Linked DNA regions of Homo sapiens: regions 1 and 3 are each linked to region 2. The links come from fine-mapping of genetic effects on gene expression. A gene starts in region 2. Each other region holds a variant in brackets. All regions are shown on one strand. Distances are from middle to middle. Region 1 overlaps CIST1 (colon, intestine and stomach enriched 1). Region 2 holds the start of IQCN (IQ motif containing N). Region 3 holds the start of PDE4C (phosphodiesterase 4C).

Region 1 (10,414 bases), 26 kb after region 2:
CTGGAGAAAATTAGGGCTGATCCTCTCTGAGCTCATAGGTGGATCTTTATAGTTGAGTGTCACTGTGCACCCACTGTGTTTCTATTCTATTGTGTGTGTGTGTTTTTTTTTTTTTTGAGACGGAGTCTCACTCTGTTGCCTAGGCTGGAGTTCAGTGGCATGATCATGGCTTACTGCAGCCTTGAACTCCTGGACTCAAGCGATCCTCCCACCTCAGCCTCCTGAGTAGCTGGGACTAGGCATGCACCACCATGCCTGGCTAATTTTTGTTTTATTTTTTTGTAGAGACAAGGTCTCATTATGTCTCCCAGGCAGGAGTGCAGTGGCGCAATCATGGCGCACTACAGCCTTGAATTCCTGGGGTCAGGCAATCCTCCCGCCTCAGCCTCCCCAGTAGCTGGGAGCACCCAGCTTGTGTACACCCACTATGAACCTGACTGATGAACTGTCAGAGGCACCAACTCCACATGAACTCCATTTTACAGAAAAGAAAACTGAGTCCCAGAAAATTTAAAGGAGCTGCCCAGCACTGCCTGGGATGCAGTCACTTCCCATATCCAAAGGGCTTCTAGAGCTCTCAGCCAAGAGGACTGGGAACGCTGATCTGCACTTGAACCCAGGCTGTGGGACTTCAGACCAGGAGCATGAATTTGAGTGGGAGCTTCAGTTTCCCACTGAGAGCTCACATGGTGTCCTAAATCTTTCAGGTCTCCCTATGACCTGGACAAAAAAATAAATTAATTAAAAATAAAAATGAAAAGGCTGGGCATGATGGCTTATGCCTGTAATCCCAGCACTTTGGGAGGCCAAGGCAGGTGGATCATCTGAGGTCAGAAGTTCGAGACAAATCTGGCCAGCACAGTGAAACTAAAAATGCAAAAATTAGCCAGGCGTGGTAATGCACGCCTGTAATCCCAGCTACTTGGGAGGCTGAGGCAGGAGAATTGCTTGTACCCAGGAGGTGGAGGTTGCAGTGAGCTGAGATGGCACCACTGCTCTCCAGCCTGGGTGACAGAGCGAGACGCCATCTCAAAAAAAGAAAAAAAAAAAGAGAGAGAGAAAGAGAGAGAGAGAGGGTCTCGCTATGTTGCCCAGGCTGGTCTCTAATTCCTGGGTTCAAGTGATGCTCTCACCTTGACCTCTCAAAGTGCTGGAATTACAGGCGTGAGCCACCGCGCCCAGTTTTTCTTTCCAGATATTGTGACCTCAGAGAACAGTATGGAGACATCACCTGTCAGCTCTCTGATTTCTTCTCCCTTCGCCCACAGCACCCACAGTTCAGGGGAACCCCCCAAATCCTACTCCAGCACCATGAGTTTGGAGACAGACTCCATAACCCACCTCAGCCCCTCAAGTTCAGGGGCAACCCCTACCATCCAGCCGAGCCCCAGCTCCACAGATTCAAGGATGATACCCTCCTCCCCACAACCAGAGACAATCACGCACCCTAGTTCTGGCTCCCCCAGTGCAGAGCTCACCCCCTCTTCCCATTCCACCCTCCCCAGTTCCGAATCCCTGACCCCGCACTGGAGCCCCACTTCCCACAGCCCCGGAACGGAGCCCTTGACCTCCACTGACCAGACCTTGGAGCCCCCTGGCCCAGGTGAGTATTAAGAGATTTGGGTGTTTGTAGGGAGGTGGCGGGTGTAACAGGCTGCAGTTTTGGAACTGACCACCAGGGGGAGGTACAGCCCCGAGAATGCTCTAGGAAGGGCTTCTTGTCTCTGCTCCATTGTCTAAAGCTCTTCATGCTATGCGCATTTATTAAGTGCCTAGTGTATGTCACGGCTGGGCACGCAGCGATGGGCAAAGAGAGAAACTAATACTTGCTGTGGTGGGGAGACAGGTTATACATTATGTATTTGGGCCTGGGCAAAATAGCAGGACTTTGTCTCTACAAAAAAATCTAAAAATGGCGGGGCGCGGTGGCTCAAGCCTGTAATCCCAGCACTTTGGGAGGCCGAGGGCGGGGGCGGGGGCGGGGGGGGCGTGTATCACGAGGTCAAGAGTTCAAGACCAGCCTGGCCAAAATGGTGAAACCCCGTCTCTATTAAAACTACAAAAATTAGCCAGGCGTGGTGGCAGACGCCTGTAATCTCAGCAACTCGGGAGGCTGAGGCAGGAGAATCGCTTGAACCCAGGCGGCAGAGGTTGCAGTGAGCTGAGATCGTGCCACTGCACTCCAGCCTGGGTGGCAGAGTAAGACTCTGTCTCAAATAAATAAATAAATAAAATAAAAATGGCTGGGCGTGGTGGTTCACATCTGTAATCCCAGCACTTTGGGAGGCCAAGGTGGGAGGATCACCTGAGGTCAGGAGTTCAAGACCAGCCTGGCCAACATGGTGAAACCCCGTCTCTACTAAAAATACAAAAAATAGCCAGGCATGGTGGCGGGCGCCTGTAATCCGGGCTACTTGGGAGGCTGAGGCAGGAAAATAATTTGAACCCAGGAGGCGGAGGTTGGAGTGAGCCCACATTGAACCACTGCACTCCAGCCTGGGAGACAGAGCAAGACTCCATCTCGGGGGGGAAAAAAAAGACTCTATCTCAAAAATAAATAAAGTAATTGATTAAATAAAATTTAAAAATTAGGCTGGGCTCAGTGGCCCACGCCTGTAATCCCAGCACTTTGGGAGGCCGAGGCGGGTGGATCACCTGAGCCAATGAGTTCAAGACCAGCCTGGGCAACATGGTGAAACCCCATCTCTACTAAATATGTACACAAATTAGCTGGGTGTGGTGGCACACACTTGTAGTCTCAGCTACTGGGGAGGCTGAGGTAAGAGGATCACTAGATCCTTGGAGATGGAGGTCACAGTAAGCTGAGATAACGTCACTGCACTCCAGCCTGTGTGACAGAGCAAGACCCTGTCTCAAAAAAAAAAAAAAAAAATTGTCCAGGCATGGTGGTGCATGCCTGTAATCCTAGCTACTTGGGAGGCTGAGGTGGGAGGATCACTTGAGCCCAGGAGATAGAGGCTGCAGTGAGCTGTGATTGCACTACTGCACTCCAGCCTGGGTGACAGAGTGAGACCCTGTCTCTAAAATACATGATTAAAAAGTGGCAGCCTCAACTGGAGAGGGAAGAGAGGTCAGCTTCCTGAGAACAGATTTTAAAAGGCTCTGGGCCCTGGTGGGTGTCTTAGGCTTGTGGGGAATAGGACCCAGTGCTGACTCTGAGTTCCTTTCCCCAGCTCCAGGTGACACTGGGCCCCGTGAGTTACACAGGAACCCGAGTGTGGTGGTGGTCGTGTGTTTGCTGGTGTCTCTTTTGCTCATCGGGTCTGTGGTCATGGCTGTGAGATTCTGTCACCGGAATGAGTCCAAGTTTGAGAACCTGGACGAGGTGTCCATGGTAAGGTAGGGCTGGGCTGGGGGCTCAGCCCTGGGGCCAAGGCATGGTTGGGGGAGCTGCTATCCCAAGCAGGGCCAACCTGGGCTGCAGAGCCTTTTGGTGTCTGAATGCCTCCCTGTGTGTTCCTTCCTCAGGGATCCGTGAATGACAGATTGTCCTTTGCCCACCACCTCCAGGAGTGAGCCCTGAGGAGCCAACAGAGATGGGGGCATGGATGGGGCTGGGGTTCCTGGGGAGGAGCAGAACCTGAGGAAATAAAGCCCCTACCATTCATCCAAGGCCTCGTGTGAAAACACGAGTTATGGACTCGTGTGAAAACATTAACTGAGCACCTACTATGTGCTGGGCTCTGTGCTGGGGTCACAGTGGGGACCATGTCTTTACTTTCAGGGGATCCACAGACTCAAGGCAGGGACAGATAAGAATCAGGAGCTCACTTGGCTGGGTGCGGTGGTTCACACCTGTAATCCCAGCACTTTGGGAGGCCAAGGCGGGCAGATCTCCTGAGCTTAGGAGTTTGAGACCAGCCTGGCTAACATGGCGAAACTCTGTCTGTACTAAAAATACAAAAATTAGCTGAGCGTGGTGGCAGGTGCCTGTAATCCCAGCTACTCAGGAGGCTGAGGCAGAGAATCGCTTGAACCAGGGAGGCGGAGGTTGCAGTGAGCTGAGATCGCCCCATTGTACTCCAGCCTGGGCAACAGAGCAAGACTCCATCTCAAAAAAAAAAAAAA[T/AT]AGGGCCAGGCGTAGTGGCTTACACCTGTAATCCCAGCACTTTGGAAGGCAAAGGTGGGTGGATCATTTGAGGTCAGGAGTTCAAGACCAGCCTGGTCAACATGGTGAAACCCCATCTTTACTAAAAATACAAAAATTAGCCAGGCGTGGTGGTGTGTGCCTGTAATCCCAGCTATTAGGGAGGCTGAGGCAGGAGAATTGGTTGAGCCTGGGAGTCAGAGGTTGCGGTAAGCTGAGATTGCACCACTGCACTCTAGTCTGGGTGACAGAGTGAGACCCTGTCTCAAAACAAACAAACAAAACTGGGGGTGCCGGGCATGGTGGCTTACCACTGTAATCTCAGCACTTTGAGAAGCTGAGGTGGGTGAATTGCTTGAGCTTGGTAGTTTGAGACCAAATTGGGCAAAATGGCAAAACCCCATCTCTCTCTCTTTTTTTCTTTTTTGAGACAGTCTCCCTCTGTCACCTAGGCTGGAGTGCAGTAGTGCAGTCTTGGCTCACTGCAGCCTCTGACTCCTGGGTTCAAGCCATTCTTTTTTTTTTTTTTTTAATAAGATGGAGTTTCGCTCTTGTTGCCCACACTGGAGTGCAGTGACACGATCTCAGCTCACTGCAACCTCTGCCTCCTGGGTTCAAACGATTCTCCTGCTTCAGCCTCCCAAGTAGCTGGGATTACAGGCACCTGCCACCACACTCAGCTAATTTTTTTGTATTTTTAGTAGAGATGGGGCTTCACCATGTTGGCCAGGATGGTCTCGATCTCCTGATCTCGTGATCCACCCGCCTCCGCCTCCCAAAGTGCTGGGATTACAGGCGTGAGCCACCGCGCCCAGCCAATGACCAGAGAGGGTCTTTGATCTACCCGGGGCGGCACAGCACAGCGGGCAACTTTCCTGGAGCCCCCAAGCTCCTTAGGCCACACCCCATGGGCTCTGCTTGGAAGCAGATATCCTAGACCCTGAGTTGATAAAATCCCCCCCTTCCCAGAGCTGCTGGTCCCCTACCACCATCTTCCTTCGCGCCCTCTCTCTCACTCTATCATATGCAAACACATGAACAATTAATCTTAACACCTCTCACCCAGCCTCCTCACTCCTACGCCTCCCTTCCCTCCTTCCCCCCTCCTTCCTCTGCCCTCCCCGCCCCTCCCCCTCCATGCCCGGCCACCCTCTTGGCCACTCTCTCGTCCCCTCAGGCCCTCTTGGACACTCTGCCCTCCACCCACTGGGAGCCTCACCCAAGGAAAGTGTGTGGATTATGTCCTGGCCTGGTGCCCAGACAGTTAAGGGGCTCCGCTGAGTGGGTGTTGAGGGAGCCCTGGGCCTCCCTCTTGGTCAGGTCATTTTCTCCCCTCCTTCCCTCACTAGCCAGCAGGTCATGGGACCCAGGCAGGACTCCGCAGTGGTGGTAAGTGCCAGACATGCCTGGGCCTCCTGGAGCAAGCTTATTCTTGAGCTTGGGGGCGTCTCAGGAGAGGTGCTGGGGTCTCGTAATCCCCCTGAAACCATCAGAGCCACTCTGGGAGCTGAATGGGTCTCCCATGTGTCTGGGGCCAGGAGACCTTGTTTCGCCAGTCCTGATGCCCCCACCCAGGCTGCTGAACCTGGACAGGTGTGGGGAGGGGCTTTGGGCACCTGGCTGCTGTCCCTGGATGGGGACCGCTGCAAGGTCCGGGCGGGTGTCTCACACTGGTGCCTGTGGTGTGGTCCATGCCACCTTGATTTAGTTCCTTGGGGTTCAAGGGAGGGTGCAGAGAGTGTGGGAGTGAGCTTCTGTCTAGGGGGTGTCCCACAGGGCCGTACCTGGGCTCCCAGTGGTCTGGAGGTCTCAGAACCATTTCTGCAGGGCCACAGATGCCAGCAGCATGAGGCACAGCAGGACAACACTCTCCTTCCTGCTGAGTGAAGTGAGTAGGGGGTGGGGGTGGCCCAGGCCATGGTGGGGAGATCCCAGAGACCCTCTACTGAGAAATACCCAGAGCTGGCCAGGCGCGGTGGCTCACGCCTGCAATCCTAGCACTTTGGGAGGGCGAAGCAGGCGGATCACTTGAGGTCAGGAGTTCAAGACCAACCTGGCCAACATGGAGAAACCCCGTCTCTACTAGACACACAAAAAACTTAGCTGGGCATGGTGGCTCATGCCTGTAGTCCAGCTACTTGGAGGCTGAGGCAGGAGAATTGCTTGAACCTGGGAGGCGGAGGTTGCAGTGAGTTGAGATCACGCCACTGCACTCCAGCCTGGGAGACAGAGTGAGACTCTGTCCCCACCACCAAAAAAAAAAGAAACACTTAGAGCTGCTCGGGGACCAGCTCACAGGGGCCCACTGAGGCCCAGAGAGGCCACCAGGGAATTGGGGACCTGATCCAACTGTCCAGCCCAGGGCTGTGGCCACTGCTTTTGGGAGCAGGAGATCCCTTGTGCCTGGACACAAGGTTTTGACTCACCCAAGAAAAGGGGACCTGGCTGCCCCCGGGCCTGAGCAGTGGGTCATGAGGTCACAACTTCAGATCACAGCCAGTGCCCCCATTCTGGGAAACTGAGCCAAGAGGAAAACCCTGCGGGGGCTGGATTCAAATCCCAGGCCCATCACCTGAGTGGCTGGTAACCTCTCTAGGACTCAGTGGTTTCTGTTGTTGTTTTGTTTTGTTTTTTAGACAGGGTCTCACTCTGTCGCCCAGGCTGGAGTGCAGTGATGTGATTTTTGCTCTCTGCCATCTCTGCTTCCCGGGTTTAAGTGATTCTCCTCCCTCAGCTTCCCGAGCAGCTGGAGTTACAGGCACAAGCCTTGACGCCCGGCTGATTTTTGTATTTTTAGTAGAGACGGGTTTCTCCATGTTGGCCAGGCTGGTCTTGAACCCCTGATCTTAAGTGACCCACCTGCCTCAGCCTCCCAAAGTGCTGGGATTACAGGCATGAACCACCATACCTGGCCAGAACTCAGCGTTTTTGTGTGTTAAAAAACTGGGCTAACTTTGTGTGGAATGAGGGTGCTCAGGGTGAGCCTCGGGTCTCCTAGGGCAGGCGTAGCTGCATATGCCTTAATGTTTATTTATCCACACTCCAGCCATCTGCAGGAAGAGGAAAGGAAAAGGGTAGTCTGGGCGCGGTGGCTCACGCCTGTAATCTCAGCGCTTTGGGAGGCCGAGGCAGGTGGATCGCTTGAGCCGAGGAGTTCAAGACCATCCTGGGTAACACAGTAAGACCCTATCTCTATTAAAAAAAAAAAAATAGCCAGTCATGGTGGTGTACGCCTGTAGTCCCAGCTACTTGGGAGGCTAAGGTAGGAGGACTGCTTGAGCACGGGAGGTCGAGGCTGCAGTGAACCGTGATCATGCCACTGCACTCCAGGCTGGGTGACAGAGCGAGACTCCATCTCAAAAAAAAAAAAAAAAAAATTAGCCTGGTGTGGTGGCGGGCACCTGTAATCCCAGCTACTTGGGAGGCTGAGGCAGGAGGATCGCTTGAACCCGGAAGGCAGGGGTTGCAGTGAGCCAAGATCACACCACTGCACTGCACTCCAGCCTGGATGACAGAGTAAGACTCTGTCTCAAAAAAAAAAAAAAAAAATTAGCTGGGCATGGTGGCAGGTGCCTGTAATCCCACCTACTCGGGAGGCTGAGGCAGTAGAATCGTTTGAACCTGGGAGGTGAAGTTTGTAGTGAGCTGAGATTGCGCCACTGCACTCCAGCCTGGACAACAGAGCGAGACTCCGTCTCAAAAAATAATGATAATAATAAATAAATAAAGGACCTTCTGATGACCTCTCCCACACTCAGCTCACAGCATCAGTCATTTCACCTGCACATGGGCACCCGCTGTGTGCCAAGCCACATGCTGAGTGTGTAGGACACAGAACTGCAGTGACAGGCCCCAAAATGACAGGGCTCATGAGACAGATGTTAAGGCAAGAAAAAAGAGAAAATGTGGGGTTGGGTGAGTGCTCATGAGACTGCTCGAGCTGGGCAGGAGGGCCTTCTCCGGGAAGTTGACATTTTAGCTGAAGTATGGATGGAAACAAGCAGCTGGCCATTTTAACAGCCGGGGGAAGGGTGTCCCCGGCAGATGGCACAGCACATGCAAAGGCCCCGAGGCAGGTTTAAGGAACAGCAAAGAGGCCAGGCACGGTGGCTCACACATGTAATCCCAGCACTTTGGGAGGCTGAGGCAGGTGGATCACTTGAGGACAGGAGTTTGAGACCAGCCTCGCCAACCTGGAGAAACCCTGTCTCTACTAAAAATACAAAAAATAAGCTGGGTGTTGTGACAGGCACCTGTAATCCTAGCTACCTGGGAGGCTGAGGCAGGAGAATTGCTTGAACCCAGGAGGTGGAGGTTGCAGTGAGCCGAGATTGTGCCACTGCACTCCAGCCTGGGCAACAGAGTGCGACTCTGTCTCAAACAAACAAACAAACAAACAAACAAACAAACAAAAAACCAACAACAGGCTAGGCACAGTGGCTCATGCTTGTAATCCCAGCACTTTGGGAGGCCACAACTGGCGGATCATGAGGTCAAGAGATCGAGACCATCCTGGCCAACATGGTGAAACCCTGTCTCTACTACAAATACAAAAAATTAGCAGTGCATGGTGGCACGCGCCTGCAGTCCCAGCTACTCGGCATGCTGAGGCAGGAAGATCACCTGAACCTGGGAGGCAGAGGTTGCAGTGAGACAATATCGCGCCACTGCACTTCAGCCTGGGTGAAGGAGTGAGACTCCATCTCAACAGAAAATAAAAAAAGAAAGAAAGAAAAAGAAAAAAAAAAAGCTGGTCACTGTGGCTCATGCCTGTAATCCTAGCAGTGTGGGAGGCCAAGGCAGGTGGATCACCTGAGGTTGTGAGTTTGAGACCAGCCTGATCGACATGGAGAAACCCCGTCTCTACTAACAATACAAAATTACCTGGGTGTGGTGGTGCATGACTGTAATCCCAGCTACTCGGGAGGCTGAGGCAGAAGGATCGCTTGAACCCAGGAGGCGGAGGTTGCGGTGAGCCAAGATCGCGTCATTGCACTCCAGCCTGGGTGACAAGAGGGAAGGCCCTGTCTCAAAAAACAAACCAAAACAAACAACAACAACAACAACAACAAAACCCAACAACAACAAAAGGGAGCTCTCAGCTAGGTGTGGTCGCGGTCGCCTGTAATCTCAGAACTTTGGGAGGCTGAGGTGGGAGGATTGCTTTATCCCAGGGGGCCGAGGCTGCAGTGAGCTGTGACTGCGCCACTGCACTCCAGCCTGGGTGACAGAGTGAGACGTCGTCTCAAAAAAAAAAACAAAACAAAACAAAAAGGGGAGGTAGCTCAGGGTCTCCTACGAAGGCCTTCCCCACCCAGGAGCCTCCCATCAGGCCCTCCATCCCCATCCCAGCTTCTTAATGAAGAGGGCAATTAATCAGGAGTAGCAGGGCCAGGTGCAGCAGTTCATGCCTGTAATCCTAGCACTTTAGGCCGAGGTGGGTGGATTACTTGAGGCCAGGAGTTAGAGACCAGCCTGGCCAACAGGGTGAAACCCTGTCTCTACTAAAAATAAAAAAATAAAAAATAAAAAAAAAGATTAGCCTGGCATCGTGGTGGGCGCCTGTAATCCCAGCTACTCAGGAGGCTGAGGTGGGAGAATCACATGAAACAGGGAGTTGGAGGTTGGAGTGAGCCGAGATGGCACCACTGCACTCCAGCCTGGGCAACAGAGTGAGACTTTGTCTCAAAAATAAAAGATAAAAAATCAGGAGTGGTAGGTTGATGTGTGCTGCAGCTGAGACCAGAGGACACCCCACTATACCCCATCCCTAGTCCCTGGGAGCCCCATCCTTACCCCATTCCACTCCAGATGGGGGAGGGATAGCTGGCTGGGTCCCAGGAATCAGGGCTCTTGGGAGCACCCCCGCATCTGACCAACAGCCAGATGCTGGCAACTGCCCCCAGACCTGTTAGGTCTGTTTCACCTTCAGTTGAGCCAGGTCCCCCATAATTCCAGATCCAAACATTCAGCTGCCTCTGCTGGCTCCATCTGGGACTCATGTGATGCTCCAGCGAAATTGGAACCCACCCAAAGCCTGGTGCTTCCCCCAATTTTCCCCATGCAAGTAATGGCAGCCCCATTCCCCAGGTAACTGTGTGACTCCTGGCTTTCTGAAAAACAAGTAATCATGCTTAATAATCACCAGTCACCACCGGATGTGGTGGCTCACGCCTGTAATCTTAGCAATTTGGGAGGCCTAGGTGGGTGGATCCCGTGAGGTCAGGAGTTCGAGACCAGCCTGGCCAACATGGTGAAATCCTGTCTCTACTAAAAAATACAATTAATTGGGCATGGTGGTGGGCAC
Region 2 (8,884 bases):
CACAGCAAGTAGGGCTGGTGGCCATGTGTACCTAGCCAGCCCTGTTAGGGAGGGCCACTGAATTGTACCCATTTTACAGATGAAGAAACTTGGAGAGAATGGCCACCGTCCCTTGGTCATGGAGAAAGGCCTTGCCACCAACAGCTATGTTGGGGTTCATTTGTTTGAGACAGAGTCTCGCTCTGTCACCCAGACTGGAGTGCAGTGGCGCCATCTAGGCTCACTGCAACCTCTGCCTCCCCGGGCTCAAGTGATTCTCCTGCCTCAGCCTCCAAGTAGCTCAGATTACAGGTGCCCACCATGCTCGGCTACTTTTTTGTATTTGTAGTAGAGACAGGGTTTCACCATGTTGGTCAAGCTGGTCTGGAACTCCTGACCTCAAGTGGTCCACCCGCCTCGGCCTCCCAAAGTGCTGGGATTACAGGCGTGAGCCCCCACGTCCGGCCAGGGTTTGGTTTTTAGCTGTCACGTTGCCTTGTGGGAGGTCATGCAGACGTTTCAGCAGGGCCTGAAGGAACCTGCTGAAGGGAACTGAGGCTGAGGTGGGAGAGCAGGGGTGTCTTGACACACAAGAGACCAAGAACCACATCTCGGGCAGAGTGTCACTGGTTGGGAGACCGGGACCCAGCTTAGGTTCCAGTTGGCATTTGTGAGATCTCAGGCGAGTCCTCCTCCCCCGATGGCCTCTACATCCTGTGCTGTGAGATGCGGGTGTTTGCATCCAGCATAACATCTCTCAGGTCAGAAGTCAGAACTGGGAGGTGCTCAGGGGACGGACAACAGTGACCGCACTCAATGATGGTACCTACTGTGGCCCCCAATTAGTAGAGAAGGGGAAGGGAGGTTTTGAGACTTGCCCAACACCCCTGTTTTTTTTTTTTTTTTTTTTTGAGACAGAGTCTCGCTCTGTCTCCCAGGCTGGAGTGCAGTGGCGCAGTCTCGGCTCACTGCAAGCTTCGCCTCCTGGGTTCATGCCATTCTCCTGCCTCAGCCTCCTGAGTAGCTGGGAATACAGGCGCCCGCCACCACGCCTGGCTAATTTTTTGTACTTTTAGTAGAGATGGGGTTTCACCGTGTTAGCCAGGATGGTCTTGATCCCCTGACCTCATGATCCGCCCGCCTCGGCCTCCCGAAGTGCTGGGATTACAGGCGTGAGCCACCGTGCCCGGCCAACACCCCTGTTAAATGGCAGAGCAGCGATTCAAACCCAGGTCTCTTGCTTGCCTGCCCCCAAGTGGTCTAAGGCGAAAGGACTCTGAGGAGCCCTGCAGAGAGGTGGAGGACGTACTTTGTTTTTCTTTTTTTTTTTTGAGACTGAGTCTTCCTCTTGTCGCCCAGGCTGGAGTGCAATGGCCTGATCTTGGCTTACCGCAACCTCCACCTCCCAGTTTCAATCGATTCTCTTGCCTCAGCCTCTTGATTAGCTGGGATTACAGGTGTCTGCCACCATGCCCAGCTAAATTTTTTTTTTTGAGACGGAGTCTCGTTCTGTCTCCCAGGCTGGAGTGCGGTGGCGCGATCTCAGCTCACTGCAAGCTCTGCCTCCCTGGTTCATGCCATTCTCCTGCCTCAGCCTCCTGAGTAGCTGGGACTGCAGGCGCCCGCCACTATGCCCGGCTAATTTTTTTGTGTTTTTAGTAGAGACGGGGTTTCACCGTGTTAGCCAGGATGGTCTCGATCTCCTGACCTCGTGATCTGCCCGCCTCAGCTTCCCAAAGTTTCTGGGATTACAGGCGTGAGCCACCCTGCCTGGCTAAATTTTTTTTTGTATTTTTAGTAGAGACAGGGTTTCACCATGTTGCCCAGGCTGGTCTCGAACTCCTGACCTCAGGTGATCCACCCACCTTGGCTTCCCAAAGTGCTGGGATTACAGGCGTGAGCCACTGGGCCCCACAAGTTTGTTTTTTTTTTTCTTTACAAGATGAGGTCTCGCTCTTGCCTTGGCCAGAGTGCAGTGGCAAGACCACAGCTCACTGCAGCCTTGACCTCCTAGGCTCAACTGATTGTCCTGCCTCACCTCAGCCTCCCAAGTAGCTGGGACCACAGGTGCACGCCACCATGCCCTACTAATTTTTATTTTTATTTTTTCTTTGAGACGGAGTCTTGCTCTGCCGCCCAGGCTGGAGTGCAGTGGCGCCATCTCGGCTCATTGCAAGCTCCGCCTCCCAGGTTCACGCCATTCTCCTGCCTCAGCCTCCTGAGTAGCTGGGACTACAGGCGCCTGCCACCATGCCTGGCTAATTTTTTTGTGTTTTTAATAGAGATGGGCTTTCACCGTGTTAGCCAGGTTGATCTCGATCACCTGACCTCATGATCCGCCAGCCTTGGCCTCCCAAAGTGCTGGGATTACAGGCGTGAGCCACCACGCCCAGCCGCCCTACTAATTTTTAAATAATTTTTTTGTAGAGATGGGATCTATGTTGCCCAGGCTGGTTTTGAACTCCTGTGTTCAAGTGATCCTCCAACCTCGGTCTCCCAAAATGCTGGGACTACAGGTATTGAGCCACTGTACTCGGCCTCTTTTTTTTTTTTTTTTTTTTTTTTTTTTTTGAGTCAGGGTCTCTCATTCAGGCTGGAGTGCAGTGGTGCAATCTTGGCTCACTGTAGCCTCCACCTCCTGGGTTCAAGTGACTCTCCTGCCTCAGCCACCAAAGTAGCTGGGATTACAGGCATTTGCCATCATGCCTGACTAATTTTTGTATTATTAGTAGAGACGAGGTTTTGCCATATTGGTCAGGCTGGTCTCAAACTCCTGGGCTCAATCGATCTGCCCGCCTTGGCCTCCCAAAGTGCTGGGATTATAGGCATGAACCATCGCGCCCAGCGTCCCCAGCATTTATTGACACCTAGTTGAGGCCAGCCCTCCAGTCTGATGGGGGAGTCAAGCAGGCATGAGCTGTGATGTGAAGGGCTTTTTCTAAATCACAGATCTGACTCCTTACTTGAAACCTTTTTGGAAAAAGTCCTGACTGCACCAGTCCCTGGGCTGGCCAGTGTCTCCTTTCAGGAGCCTCTCCACCCAAATTCCCAATATCCTGCCTTCCTGGCCTCAGGGTCTTTGCACGGCTGCAGCTGTAGTTCTGTGCCAGCTACTCTTCCCCCAGTCATGCAGCTGAGCGCCACCTCCCAGCCTCAGCTGCACAGTCCTCGGAAGCCTGTCCCTAGTAACCCTCAGGCTAGGCCAGCACCTTACTGGGCTCCTACGGTCTCCAATTGCCCTGAGAACTCCCAGTTTGTGTTTAGCTCGTTGACAGCACAGAAGGGACCTGTTCTGATGAAACATCCAAAGGATGAGCTGGGTGCAGTGGCTCATGCCTGTAATCCCAGCACTTTGGGAGGCCGCAGCAGGCGGATCACTTGTGGTCAGGAGTTTGAGACCAGCCTGGCCAACATGGTGAAATCCTATCTCTACTAAAACTACATAAATCAGCTGGGCGTCATAGCATGCACCTGTAGTCCCAGCTACTCAGGAGGCTGAGGCACGAGAATCGCTTGAACCCGGGGAGGTGGAGGTTGCAGTGAGCTGAGATCGTAGCACTGCACTCCAGCCTGGGCAACAGAGCGAGACTCAATCTCAAAAAACAGACAAAGGATATAAACCCCACCCAACTGCCATCTGCCATGTCCCTGATTTTGTCCAAAGTCACACCCACAGTATAGGGAAGGTTTTGGAGGGGGTGATCGCTGCAGAGGGAGGTCAGGCACCCCTGCTGGTTCTTGTCCCGGCAACCCCCAGCGGCTCCCCAAGGAAGCCAGGCAGAGGCTTCTGGGCCAGGCTGGCTTTGGCTGGAGCCAGCTGCACTGAGTCCAAGGTGCGTGTCAGCCTTGGCCCAGCCAGCGGTGACTCATGCTGGGCCCCAGCCCAGCCCCAGGAGGTGATCCAGGACAGCAGCCTGACTTCCCCTTATAGCGCTGCGGCTCAGGGTCAGTACCCACTTTTGCCGGGCCCAGTGGGGATCCCAAGAGATCAAGTCCGGCCCCACCCCAAGGAGCCCGCAGTCTCAGAGCCACACCCAAGACATCAGTGAGAACCCTGACTGGCCCGTTGCACCCCCTTTTTGGTCCCTTCCCATCTAGCCATTTTACAGCCTCAAATTCTTTGAGTTGTTTGTATCCCCAGACATGGGGCAAATTCCAGCATATAGTAGGTGCTCAGAAAATGCCCGTGGGATGAAAGACTGAAACTGCCTCTAGGTACATGGAGGGGGAGATTTGGGGTTCCCTCTGTGCTGAGAACCCTTTGTACTCAGGATGAGCCGGTGTAGGTAGCAACCACCATGACCTTTGGCCCTGCCCTGCATCCTGTTCCCCAACCTCTGGCTGTGCCTTCTAGAATCCCCACCCCCTAAGAGCTGCCAGGGATTGGCCAGAACTTGGCTTTGAGTCACAAAGCTGCTGCGGCACCAGGGCTCCAAGACTGGCCGTTCAGACTGCTAGGTTTAGCTTCAGGGGCAGGTGAGTGGGGCTGGTGGCTTTGGGGGCGGGTGAGTGGGGCTGGTGGCTTCAGGGGCGGGTGAGTGGGGCTGGTGGAGGACTTGTTTGCGAGGGTTCGTGGGGGACCCTGTCGTTCTCCTCTGGCCCCCAGTGCCTTTAGAGCCCTTCTGGGCCTTCTGGGTGACTGCAAATGATGGGTCAGCTCCTTGGCCCCTCACAGCAGGGGCTCTAGGGACCTCTAAAGCCTTGATGGTGGATTTGTTCACCTGTGATGGGGGACATCATGGAGAGCCTGTTATGTCTCTTTATTATTATTTTTTTAAATAAATAGAGACATGTTGCCCAGGCTGTTTTCAAACTCTTGGGCTGCAGCGATCCTCCCACCTTGGTCCCCCAAAGTGCTTGGATTACGGGCAGGAGCCACTGCGCCCAGCTGAGCCTGTTGTGTCTCTTTGGCAACCTGAGGATGGTGATCTTATGTCTTGTGACAGATAGGGAAATTGAGGCTCAGAGGGGTTTACTCAAAATTACCGAGCCAGTCGCTTGGCTTCTGTGTCCAGGGGGCCCCTGTTCCTTCTTCTCATCCCCCACAATCCCGTTTCTCACCCCTTCTGGTTGAGTTCCTCTAAAGAGCTGCACCGTTTGGTTGATGAAACCTCAGCCCCTGGAATGGGCCCATTCAGCTCCCAGAGCTGCTGTCTCCCGGGTTCAAGTGATTTTCCTGCCTCAGGAGTTCGAGACCAGCCTGACCCATATGGTCAAACCCCATCTCTACTAAAAATTCAAAAATTAGGCCGGGCAAGGTGGCTCACGCCTGTAACGCCAGCACTTTGGGAAGCCAAGGCGGGCAGATCACCTGTGATCAGGAGTTCAAGACCAGCCTGACCAACATGGAGAAACCCCATTTCCACTAAAAATACGAAATTAGGTGTGGTGGCGCATGCCTGTAATCCTAGCTATTTGGGAGGCTGAGGCAGGAGAATCGCTTGAACCTGGAGGCAGAGGTTGCAGTGAGCCAAGATGGCGCCATTGCACTCCAGCCTGGGCAACAAAAGTGAAATTCCGTCTCAAAGAGAATAATAATAATAATTAGGCCGGGCATGGTGACTCATGCCTGTAATCCCAGCACTTTGGGAGGCCGAGGCGGGCGGATCACTTGAGGTCAGGGGTTCGAGACCAGTCTGGCCAACATGGCGAAACCCCAACTCTACTAAAAATACAAAAGTTAGCCAAGTGTGGTGGCAAGTGCCTGTAATCCCAGCTACTCGGGAGGCTGAGACAGGAGAATCACTTTGAACCTGGGAGGCGGAGGTTGCAGTGAGCCAAGATCGTGCCACTGCACTTCAGCCTGGGCAACAGAGCAAGATTCCGTCCATCTCAAAAAAATAAAAATAATAAATATATGTGTGTCAATTATCCATGCATTGCCTCTTGTCTCCGAATGGACCCTTTCAATATGTGATAAACAAAGGAATTTCTTTCGTTATGTCTTGTTTAAAGTGAGCACAATGCTCGGCCAGGCGCGGTGGCTCACGCCTGTAATCCCAGCACTTTGGGAGGCCGAGGTGGGCGAATCACGAGGTCAGGAGATGGAGACCATCCTGGCTAGCATAGTGAAACCCCGTCTCTACTAAAAATACAAAATATTAACTGGGCGTGGTGGCAGGCGCCTGTAGTCCCAGCTACTCAGGAGGCTGAGGCAGGAGAATGGCGTGAACCCGGGAGGCAGAGCTTGCAGTGAGCCGAGATGGTGCCAGTGCACTCCAGCCTGGGAGACAGAACGAGACTCCGTCTCAAAAAAAAAAAAAAAGTGAGCACAATGCTAAGATTTCTCAATAGAGGGCGCTGGTGAGGCATTAGGGATAGAGGTGTGAAGACACCAGGTGAAGCCTGCCCGAGCCCTGGATCCAGAACGTGGTCCTGTGACTTTGCAGTCTTGACCTGGTGAAAACCTTTCTGCAGCCCTCTCAACACACACAAAAAACAGAGCCCCTAAGGCCGGGCGCGGTGGCTCATGCCTGTAATCCCAGCACTTTGGGAGGCCAAGGTGGGTGGATCACCTGTGGTCAGGAATTTGAGACCAGCCTGACCAATATGATGAAACCCCATCTGTACTAAAAATACAAAAATTTGCTAGGCGTGGTGGCAGGTGCCTGTAATCCCAGCTGCTCAGGAGGCTGAGGTAGGAGAATCGCTGGAAACCGAGAGGTAGAGGTTGCAGTGAAAGGAGATCGCGCCACTGCACTCCAGCCTGGGCGACAAGAACAAAACTCAAAAGAGAGAGAGAAAAAAAAAAAGGCCAGGCGCGGTGGCTCACGCCTGTAATCCCAGCACTTTGGGAGGCCGAGGCAGGCGAATCACCTGAGATCAGGAGTTTGAGACCAGCCTGGCCAACATGGTGAAACCCCGTCCCTCCAAAAACAAAACAAAACAAAACAAACAAAATTAGCTGGGTGTGGTGGGATTCATGCCTGTAATCCCAGCTACTCGGGAGGCTGAGGCAGGAGAATCGCTTGAACCCAGGAGGCGGAGGTTGCAGTGAGCCAAGATGCTGAGTGCCGCTGCACTCCAGCCTGGGGGACAGAGTGAGACTCTGTCTCAAAAATCATAAATAAATAAATGATAATAAACGAACAGAGCCCCCACGGTGGCCCATACACATTGAAGGCCTCCTGCCCCAGCAACACTTAGGTTTCCAGTGCACATCCAGAGCACCAACTGTTGATAACCTGTTCCCACATCTGCACCCTGGAGGGTGGGCCTTTTGCTTGTTTTGCAACTCCAGACCAGCTCTGGCTTGGCCGATCCAGCAATTATCTCCGTTAACTTGTTAGGCGGGACCATACTTTCTCCAAGGAAGTCTGAATGCTCTCCAAATTTGCCCCTTTTTTGGGGATACTCCCTCAGCCCTAAAGTACCACATAGAGTTTCCTTTTATCTTTTTTTTTTTTTTTTGAACTGAGTTTCGCTCAGTCACCCAGGCTGGTGTGCAATGGTATGATCTCAGCTCACTGCAACCTTTGCCTACTGGGTTCAAGAGATTCTCCCGCCTCAGCCTCCTAAGTAGCTGGGATTACAGGCACCTGCCATCATACCTGGCTAATTTTTGTATTTTTAGTAGAGACAGAGTTTCACCATGTTGGCCAGGCTGGTCTTGAACTCCTGACCTCACGTGAGCCACCCACCTCGGCCTCCCAAAGCACTGGGATTACAGGCGTGAGCCACTGCGCCTGGTTTTTTTTTTTTTTTTTTGAGACAGAGTCTCACTCTGTCGCCCAGGCTGGAGTGCAGTTGCGTGATCTCGGCTCACTGCAATCTCCATCTCTCGGGTTCAAGTGATTCTCCTGCTTCAGCCTCTGAAGTAGCTGGGATTACAGGTGCATGCCACTGTGCCTGGCTAAGTTTTGTATTTTTAGTAGAGACGGGGTTTCACCATGTTGGCCAGGCTGTTCTCGAACTCCTGACCTTGTGATCCACCTGCCTTGGCCTCCCGAAGTGCTGGGATGACAGGTGTGAGCCACCATGCCTGGCCTCCCAGGTTACCTTTTATCTTATACTTACTCTTTAATCACAATCTTTTTTTTTTTTTTTTTGAGACAGGGTCTCAGCCAGGCACCGTGGCTTACACTTGTCATCCCAGCTACTTGGGAGACTGAGGCACAAGAATCACTTGAACCTGGGAAGCAGAGGTTGCAGTGAGCCGAGATTGTGACGCTGCACTCCAGCCTGGGCAAAAGGGTGGGACTCTGTTTTAAAAACAAAAAAGAGATAGGGTCTCATTCTGTCGCTCAGGCTCGAGTGCAGTGGTGCCATCGTAGCTTACTGCAGTCTCAACCTCCTGGCCTCAAATGATCCTCCTGTCTCAGCCTCCCGAGTAGCTGGGACTACAGGTGCATGTCACCATGACTGGCTAATTTTTATGTTTTTAGTAGAGACGGGTTTTACCATGTTGCCCAGGCTGGTCTGGAACTCCTGGCCTCAAGTGACCCACCCACCTTGGCCTTCCAAATTGCTGGGGTTACAGACGTGAGCCACTGTGCCCGGCCTATTTTTTTTTTTTTTTTGAGACAGTTTTGCTCTTGTTGCCCCAGATGGAGTACAATGGCACGATCTCAGCTCACTGAAATCTCTGCCTCCCAGGTTCAAGATATTCTCCTGCCTCAGCCTCCTGAGTAGCTGGAATTACAGGCGTCAACCACTATGCCTGGCTAATTTCTTGTATTTTTAGTAGAGACGGGGTTTTACCATGTTGGCCAGGCTGGTCTCGAACTCCTGACCTCAGGTGATCCACCCTCCTCGGCCTCCCAGAGTGCTGGAATTACAGGCGTGAGCCACGCCTGGCCAATTTTTTTTTTTTTTTTTTTTTTTTTTTAAGAGACAGTTCTTGCTTAGTTTCCCAGGCTGGTCTCAAACTTCTGTCCTCAAGTGATCCTCCCATCTTGGCCTCCCA
Region 3 (8,000 bases), 47 kb after region 2:
TGGAGGCTCCAGGGCCAGGAAGGAGGGTCCAGGAACTCCAAGCCCTCCTTAGGTTGGAGGGAGAACCAAGTCAGCTGGACCAGCATCCCAGATTTCAGTCCAGGCTGAGTGGCCTTGGATGGGTTACTTCCCTGCTCTGGAGCTTGGCTTTCTTGCGTCCTGGTGCATGGACCCCCTAGGGGCCACTGGCTTCTGACTCCATCAGCAAGCCTGGCCTCTCGCCCCCAGCCTGGCCCTCCAGCAGCCTGGGAGGCATCTGGGGTAGATGGTTCCCACAGCCCAGAGGGGTTGGAGCTGTTCTCAGGTGACCCAGGAGCCCCTTCTCCCGCCCCGGCTTCTAGTTCCTCCTTCCCCATCCCTTCTGGTGACTCATGATTTTCCATTTTCAAGAAAGAACAAACAGAGCCTTGGTATGAGCTCTTCTAGGGGAAGCCCCCGCTTGGCTCTGGGAGGCAGGAGCGGTGGATTGGGTGTCCCTGTGCACGTGTGTGTGCACACACACGTCGTTCTGCGCATCGTATGCGCTGCAGTCACACATACGTGGATGAGCATGCATGTGGCCCACTGTGCTTCTCTGTGCTGATATGAGGGTAGGGGTTCACCCCAGGGGGAAGCCCAGCGAAACTGAGTTCAAGGCCAGGCCCCAAGGCCAACCTGCTGTGTGGTATTGAGCAAGCCGTGGTGCCTCCCGGAGCCTCGGCGTCCTCATCAGAGAGGTGAATATTCTGTGCCTGAGCCTGGTACACACTGGGTCCCCAGCTTGTGGCTCTTTACTCAGCCCTAGAAACTGTTGGGGGAATGTGCTTCCCCACAGCCCCAGATGGATCACAGGGGTATGGGAGGGTCTAAGCATTTTGTTGAGAAGGCATTTAAGCACCTACTGGGTGGCAGGCCCTGTGTTGGAGACGCAACCATGGATAAGAAGCTGTGTCCCCTAAGGCTGATGGTGGAGACACTCATACCAGGTGGAGAAGGCACAGGTTGATAGGGAAAGGTCAGAGAACAAGCCCAGAGGAGGCTCCAGACCCAGCAGTGGGGTGGGAGTCAGGGAGGACTGCTTGGGAGAAGTGACATTTAAGCTTAGCCTGCAGGAGGAAAGAGGTCAGCTAGGGTGAGTGCAAGAAGGGTATTCTAAGTAGAAGGAACAGAATGTGCAAAGCCTCAGACTCAAGAGGATCAGGCATGTGAGGAGCTGAAAATGGATCAGTGTGGCTTGAGGATGGAAGGAGAGGCTCTCTGTTTATGCTACAAGCATTTATTTATTTATTATTTTTTAGATGGAGTCTCTCACTCTGTTGCCCAGGCCGGGTGCAGTGGCACAATCTTGTCTCACTGCAACCTCTGCCTCCTGGGTTCAAGCGATTCCCCTACCTCAGCCTCCCCAGTAGCTGGGATTACAGGTGCCCACCACCATGCCTGGCTAATATTTGTATTTTTAGTAGAGACAGTTTTGCCATGTTGGCCAGACTGGTCTCAAACTCTTGACCTCAAGTGATCCACATACCGTGGCCTCCCAGAGTGCTGGGATTGCAGGCATGAGCCACCACACCCAGCCGCTACAAGCATTTATTGAGCATCTACTAAGTGCCAAGTACTGAGGGAACAGCAGGGAACATGGCAGACCTGGCCTTGCTCTCCAGGGACTCACAGGCAAATAATCATGACAATAAATGTGAAGTTGTATCCATGGCTGGAGGGTGCTCTGAGGCATTTACCTGGCTAGTCAGGGAGGGCTTCTCGGAGGAGGTGACTCTAACTGTAACCCAAAAGACAAAGCATCAGCAGGCGACAAGCATTCAGGTGAGGGCCATGGGGTGGAAATAAGCCTGGCTGATTCAGAGAACAGTGAGGAGTGGGGAGAGACTGGAACAGTGTAAGCCAAGAGAAGTGAGGTGGGGATGGGCCACATGGGACCTCTGGGAGGTGTGAATTCAGATCTGAGGGCAATGGGGGGCCATGGGAGGGTCTGCAGCAAAGGAGTGTGTGATTTGACCCATGCGAACATCTACACATGTGACCTGGCCCCCACCCTGCTCATTCTGCTTGACTCCTCCGTGGGGACTTGGGCAAGTCATCTCCCCTCTCCACGTCTCAGTTTACTCATCTGTAAAATGGTCAAAAACACCCATTTAAAAAAATCTCTCTGGGGCCACCTGGTGGCAGTGGAGAAAAGTGCCTGCCCAGAGAAGGGAACATTCAAATGAGGGAAACTGAGGCAGTGCTGTGCTAAAGGCATCAGAATGGGCGCAGTGGCTCACACCTGTAATCCCAGTACTTTGGGAGACTGAGGCAGACGGATCACCTGAGGTCAGGAGTTCAAGACCAGCCTGGCCAACATGGTGAAACCCCGTCTCTACTAAAAATACCAAAATTAGTTGGGCGTGGTGGCAGATGCCTGTAATCCCAGCTACTTGGGAGGTTGAGGCAGGAGAATCACTTGAACCCAGGAGGCAGAGGTTGCAGTGAGCCAAGATTGCGCCACTGCACTCCACCCTGGGCGACAGAGTGAAACTGTGTCTCAAAAAAGTAAGGCCAGGGACAGTGGCTCACGCCTGTAATCCCAGCACTTTGGGAGGCTGAGGCAGGTGATCACCTGAAGTCAGGAGTTCGAGACCAGCCTGACCAATATAGTGAAACCTCGTCTCTACTAAATACAAAAAAAAAAAAAAAAAAAAATTAGCTTGGCATGGTGGCACATGCCTGTAATCCCAGCTACTTGGGAGGCTGAGGCAGGAGAATTGCTTGAACCCAGGAAGCGGAGGTTTCAGTGAGCCGAGATTGTGCCATTGCACTCCAGCCTGGGCAACAGGAGCAAAACTCTGTTCTCAAAAAATAATAATAATATGTAAATAAAATAAAATAAAATAAATAAAGGCACCAGAGACTACTGGGCACCTCTACAGGAGATGCAGTAATGCAGGGATGGAGTCAGGGTAGGGGTGCTTCTGTCCAAACCTCTTTCAGCTTTTGTCCCTTACCCAGCGGGGCTTGGAGAGCCTCCCAGGGCCTGGTAGGAGCCAGGCTGTGAATGCTGAGTCCTGGCTCTGTGGCCACCCCTTGCTGTGACTCTTTCTCCATCCGAACAGCTATTAATTAACACCTTCCTGTTAGAACTGTTAATAAAATATTTAAAATTAAATATATGGATGAAACATTAATAGTAAACCTATTGATAAAATATTAATGTGAGACTCGCCCCTGGGACTACAGAGGGGATGAAATGAGTTAACGCATCCAGTGCGGGAGGACCCAGGCTGGGAAGAACACTACCTGTCCGGGTTCAAATGACCCCAGTCTTGCACCTTATGGCTGTGTGTCCTTAGGCAAATGACTGTGCCTTTCTGTGCCTCAGTAGCCCCATCCTCGAAATGGGAATAGTAGTCCACACTTTGTAGGTTTCGTCTGAAAATCCAATGACTTTTCCCTTCACTGCTGTTGGCTGAGTGCTGCATGTTTTTGAAGCACTCAGTTTACATAATTTTGTTTAGTCTTAGCCTCCTATTTTATGTCTGTGATT[T/C]TGGGGGAGGGGCTGAATCTCTGTGCCTCGGTTTCTCCTTGGGGACATGTAACTATTGTCACTTCTCTCACAGTGGCGGGGAGGTGGTGTCAAGACTGCTGAGACCTTGGCTCCAGTGTCCCCACAAGGCCAATCCTAGCAGCATGTGTCCCCTAGGGATGGCTATAATTAGGTCTGGCCCCAGCAGACAACGATGGTATTTTTGTCTTGGGGACAGCGAGGTCTGGTTCCCGCCAGGTGTCTGGTTGCAAGACTGCGGGGGTTAGGGGGGCTTCCTGGCCAGATACCTGAGGCTCTCTGTTTTTCTGGGCTGTGTGACTCCTCCTCTGAGCCTCTGTTTTCTCATCTGTAGAATGGGGAGACTCTCATGTATCTGGCCTTAGCATGGTTGCCTCAGGATCTCCTGTGGGATCCCTGATCAATGGGCTTCTCCAGGACTGCCAGAAACATGGGTACCATGTCTGGGGACACCAAGACTGAGGCAGCCGCCCCGGGGGGAAGGCCCAGGCTGAGAGACAGAGGTCATTCCACAGCAAGGGGCACGGTCAGGCCTCAGTTGCTGGGAGGTCCCCTGGGCCTCTGCCTGTGACATGGCTGTTTCTAGGTCCCTCCTCCTTGTGTGACACATGCTAAGCCTTGGTTTCCTTTTCTGTAAAGTGGAACAAGGCCAGCCTGACTCCAGCATTCTGAGGGTAGAGCACCTGGTACAGACTCTGGGAATCCTCCCAGACACCAGAGGCCCCCCCCAGTCCTGGGACAGTGAGGTCCCTCTGATGGCAGGGGTGGGCGGCTGAGGTTTCGCAGGACAGAAGACTTGGCAGAGGTGATGTGCGGATGTTTGTCTAGGAGGAGACAGCAGGAGAGGTGAAGGCATCCAGAGACAGGGCCTGGGGAATGTCAGAGCAGGTGGGGGATCACGTGGGGAGTTGCGTGGAGGGGTGCTGGGAGAGGGGGCCCTGAGTTTGGGTCTCGCTTTCTGCAACAAAGACCCATGCCCGTGACCGCGTCCATGGAAGCCTCAGTTTCCCCACTTGGCAAAGGATTAAGGGTTTGTAGTTTCTGGTGCGCTGTTTGATGGCACTAGGCCTCAGTTTCTCCATCTGGAAAATGGGCAGAGGAGGATTAGAAACATTGCGTGGGATCGGACATTGGCAAACTCTATACCTCGGTGATGCCCTCAATAATGGAAGGCAAGACAGCTGTTTCTCTGGGCACCTTGCTTTCTGACTCCCTCATTCTACACTTTTTAGCAGTTATTGGCCCAGCAAGCTGCACTAACCAGGGACGTGCCGAGGAAGGCTGAGTAAGATCCAGGCTCTGAGATCTTAGGGGCAGCCCTCTAAAGAAGTACAGTTGGGCCTGGCGCAATGGCTCACACCTATAATCCCAGCACTTTGCGAGGCTGAGGCAGGAGGATCACTTGAGTCTGGGAGTTCGAGATCAGCCTGGGCAACATAAAGAGACACCCCCATCTCTCCAGAAAATACATTAGCCCGGGCGTGGTGGTGTGCATCTGTAGTCCCAGCTACTTGGGAGGCTGAGGTAGGAGGATCCCTTGAGCCCAGGAAGTTGAGGCTGCAATGAGCTAGGACTGTGCCACTGCACTCCAGCCTGGGCAACACAGCGAGATCGTCTCAAAAAAAAAAAAAAAAAAAAGGAGCAGAGAGTTGCGTCTGACTCTGTGCCTCAGTTTCCCCGTTTGTCCCGGGGGTCGTCAGGGAGCCGCCGGCCTCGAGGCGGGGCCGATGCGCCCTTTGCCCCCTCCCCGCTGGGCCCCGCCCCCGCAGCTGTCCAGAAAAGGTCCCGCGCAGCCGGCGCTCGGTCCAGCCTCCACGCAGTCCTGGCGATGCAGGGCCCCCCCGCGCCCGCCCCGGTCCCCGGGCCCGGCTCCCCTCGGGGATCCCCGCGCGGCTCCCCCGGGCTCTTCAGGAAGCTTTTGGTGAATCAGAGCATCCGCCTGCAGCGGCGCTTCACGGTGGCCCATCCGCTGTGGTGAGGCTGGACAGAGGGCCTGGCGGGGTCACCGGGACGCCCGGTGTGGAGGTGGGAAGGGCAGGGACAGGGACAAGGCCAGGGACAGCTGGGGCCGGGGCCGGAGTCCGGGCTTGGACGCTCTGCCTCTCCCTCGCTTTCTCTGTATCTCTCTCCCTCTACCCTACCTTACCCTACTTTTGTCTCGCAGTTGGTGACTCTGTCTCTCTCTGTCTCCGTCTGTCTCCACCCGCCGCCTGGATATAGGCCCAGGGGACCAGCCGTCTGTCTCCTTCCAGCTGTGAGGCCCAGAGTGGGACGGGCTGAGGCTCACGTCTCCTCCTGACCCTCGCCGGCCTGGGGCAGGCAGGCTGTGCGTCCTGGCAGTGGGAGGAGGGGGAAGGGGCACTCCTTCCCTTGGTGCCCCCTCCCACCAGCATCCTGTCCCAGTGCCAGCAAAGAGATGCCCTGGGGGCCTCACAATGAACTCTGGGTGTCCACGGAGGAAGACCTGAATTGAGGGGGTTTTCGAGGCAGGGCGTTCGGGAGTCCCAGGCTGAGCGCGCGCCTGCGCCCGGCAGCTGCTTGCGCTGCATCCTCTAAGCACTCGGTCCACCCCTCTGGGTTCGAATCCCTGCCTTTCCAGAAACGACTGTGACCTCGTGGGGAGGGATGGGGGCAAGGCTGGGGTTCGGAGTGGGGCTTGTGGGCGCCGACTGTGGCTGGCATCCTGCGCTTGGTCCGCGCCGAATTGGCACCCACTTGGTAAGTCTGGCACCCAAAGGCTGAGAGGGGAGGTCCCTCTCCAAGGTCATAGCTGGGGTTGGAGGGAGAAGGTATGACCGTGGTTCCTGGTGGTTCCATTTCAACCAGGGAGTGGGAGAGTGGGGGTTCCGTGTCCTGGAGAGCGACCTCGGGGCACCAAACACTAGCGAAGCACATTCCCTTTTGAAGGCGCTAGAGACAGCGCAGGGACGTCGAGGGCGCGTCGCGGGTACTCAGAAGTGAGGATGAACGAGGGCCGGCCCCGCGCAGGCCAGACCCGAACCCAAGTCCGAGCCTCCCTGGCTCAGTTTACCCCCCTGGCCAATGGGCAGCCGCGCCGTTCCCACAGCCGGGGGGCTCTACCCCCGCACCGCCCGCGTCATGGAACCACAGCCTGACCCCGCCGCTCCCGGCTAAGTTTAGAGCAGAAAGAAAAACAGCCTCCCCCGCCCCAAGAAAACCCGGGCCCAGTCCTTAACCCTCCGCGCCCGGGATCCGGATTTGCACGCCCTGTGGCCGCTCCTGGCCTCAGTTTCCCTATTTGTCCACAGACGCGCTTTTCTGGAACCCTTGGGGAGAGCCGAGAGAGGGGTAGGGGGTCGCGATCCGCATGCCTCCCCCTCGAGGGGCAGATCTGGGTTATCCGCCGCCTCCAGTCCGCCCCTAAGAGCGTCTCCCATTGCACCACAGCGCCCACGGCGCACCCCAGACGGGCCAGGGAAGGGTTAAGAAGCCCCGCCCCTTCGGCTGGCCGTGGGGTTCATCCCGGTGCTGCTAAACCCGCTGGAGTCGGACGGAACAGGCCGAGCGCGGCCGGTCTTAGTCGGAGATGCCCGAACTAGCCCTCATGTAGCCGGACGTGACCGAACATGCCCGACCCGGCCCGAGCGTCACCCGGACTTGTTCGAAGCAGACCGAGCGTAACCGGACTTAGGCGAACAAGCTCGAACTTATCCGAAGTCTCCCGAGCTCAATCGGACGTAGCCGAATTCTCCCGAACTCATCGAACAAACTCTTCGTGACCAAGTCCAATTCGACGTGATCAGACCCAACTCAGACCCGGTCATACTTGGACCGAATGCTGCCAAATCCCCCACCTCTACCCAGATCTGAGCCTACGCGGGGTGCCGACCCAGCTCGTGGACGGGGATACGGTGACCTTTGACCCAAAAGTCTTGGCCGGGACCAGCCGGACACTGGCCCTCGGCCGGGAGCTCCGAGTCTCAGGCGGTCCCGGTTGTCTTCCTGTCGGTGCCGCTTCCGCCTGCCCTTCTTGAAAACCCACCCCCAGGTCACCGCCTTCTCTAGCGCCCCAGTTCTTGCCCTACGCCCTTTCTCTGACCTCTGACCCCAAAGAGGAGGAGCCAGAGGGAAAGACAGGGTTTGAGGGTAGAACGGGACAGGTAGTGTGGAGAGGGAGGAGGGTGGGCCGGGCAGAAAGCACGGCCTGTGCAAAGACCCGGAGGTGGAAGATAACAGGCGGAACGTTCAGGCTGAAGATGAAGTGGAGGAGTGGGGGAGCCTAGGGCAGGACCCGGCTAGCTGGGGGCGTGGTCGGCGGCCGTGGGGCGGAGCCTTATGGGCTGAGGGTGGAGCCTGGAACGCTGGGGGCGTGGCAGGTAGCCAAGGGTGTGAGCAAGTTGGCTAGGAGTGGGGTCTCTCTAGACTAAGGCGCACGCAGGAGCTAGGCAGAACCCCGGCCTCCTCCAGGTAGAAGAGCCCAAGAAGCTGTTTCCAGTCCACGTGT

What was found. PIP is the estimated chance that this variant, and not a neighbour inherited with it, causes the effect.
Region 1: its variant is fine-mapped to the expression of IQCN in whole blood (INTERVAL, PIP above 0.99).
Region 3: its variant is fine-mapped to the expression of IQCN in whole blood (TOPMed, PIP above 0.99).

Annotation. Positions count from the first base shown.
Region 1 is chr19:18,243,253-18,253,666 of GRCh38, reverse strand. CIST1 (colon, intestine and stomach enriched 1) reads left to right here. Exons shown (of 4, transcript NM_001396036.2): 2 at 1,196-1,603; 3 at 3,195-3,355; 4 at 3,490-3,633. The coding sequence ends at 3,537. It also overlaps a transcript of PDE4C not described here. Among named protein-coding and RNA genes, the nearest start is that of CIST1, 6.9 kb to the left of the region's middle. RefSeq lists an enhancer at 4,423-5,326. The variant T/AT (reference allele first, on the strand shown) is at 4,090.
Region 2 is chr19:18,269,974-18,278,857 of GRCh38, reverse strand. IQCN (IQ motif containing N) reads left to right here and starts at 4,406. Exons shown (of 4, transcript NM_001145304.2): 1 at 4,406-4,455. RefSeq lists enhancers at 3,782-3,901, 3,685-3,979.
Region 3 is chr19:18,223,779-18,231,778 of GRCh38, reverse strand. It overlaps PDE4C (phosphodiesterase 4C), which reads left to right and starts at 5,341. Exons shown (of 15, transcript NM_001098818.4): 1 at 5,341-5,509. The coding sequence starts at 5,364. RefSeq lists enhancers at 1-228, 6,994-7,233 and silencers at 5,398-5,457, 7,844-7,913. The variant T/C (reference allele first, on the strand shown) is at 3,518.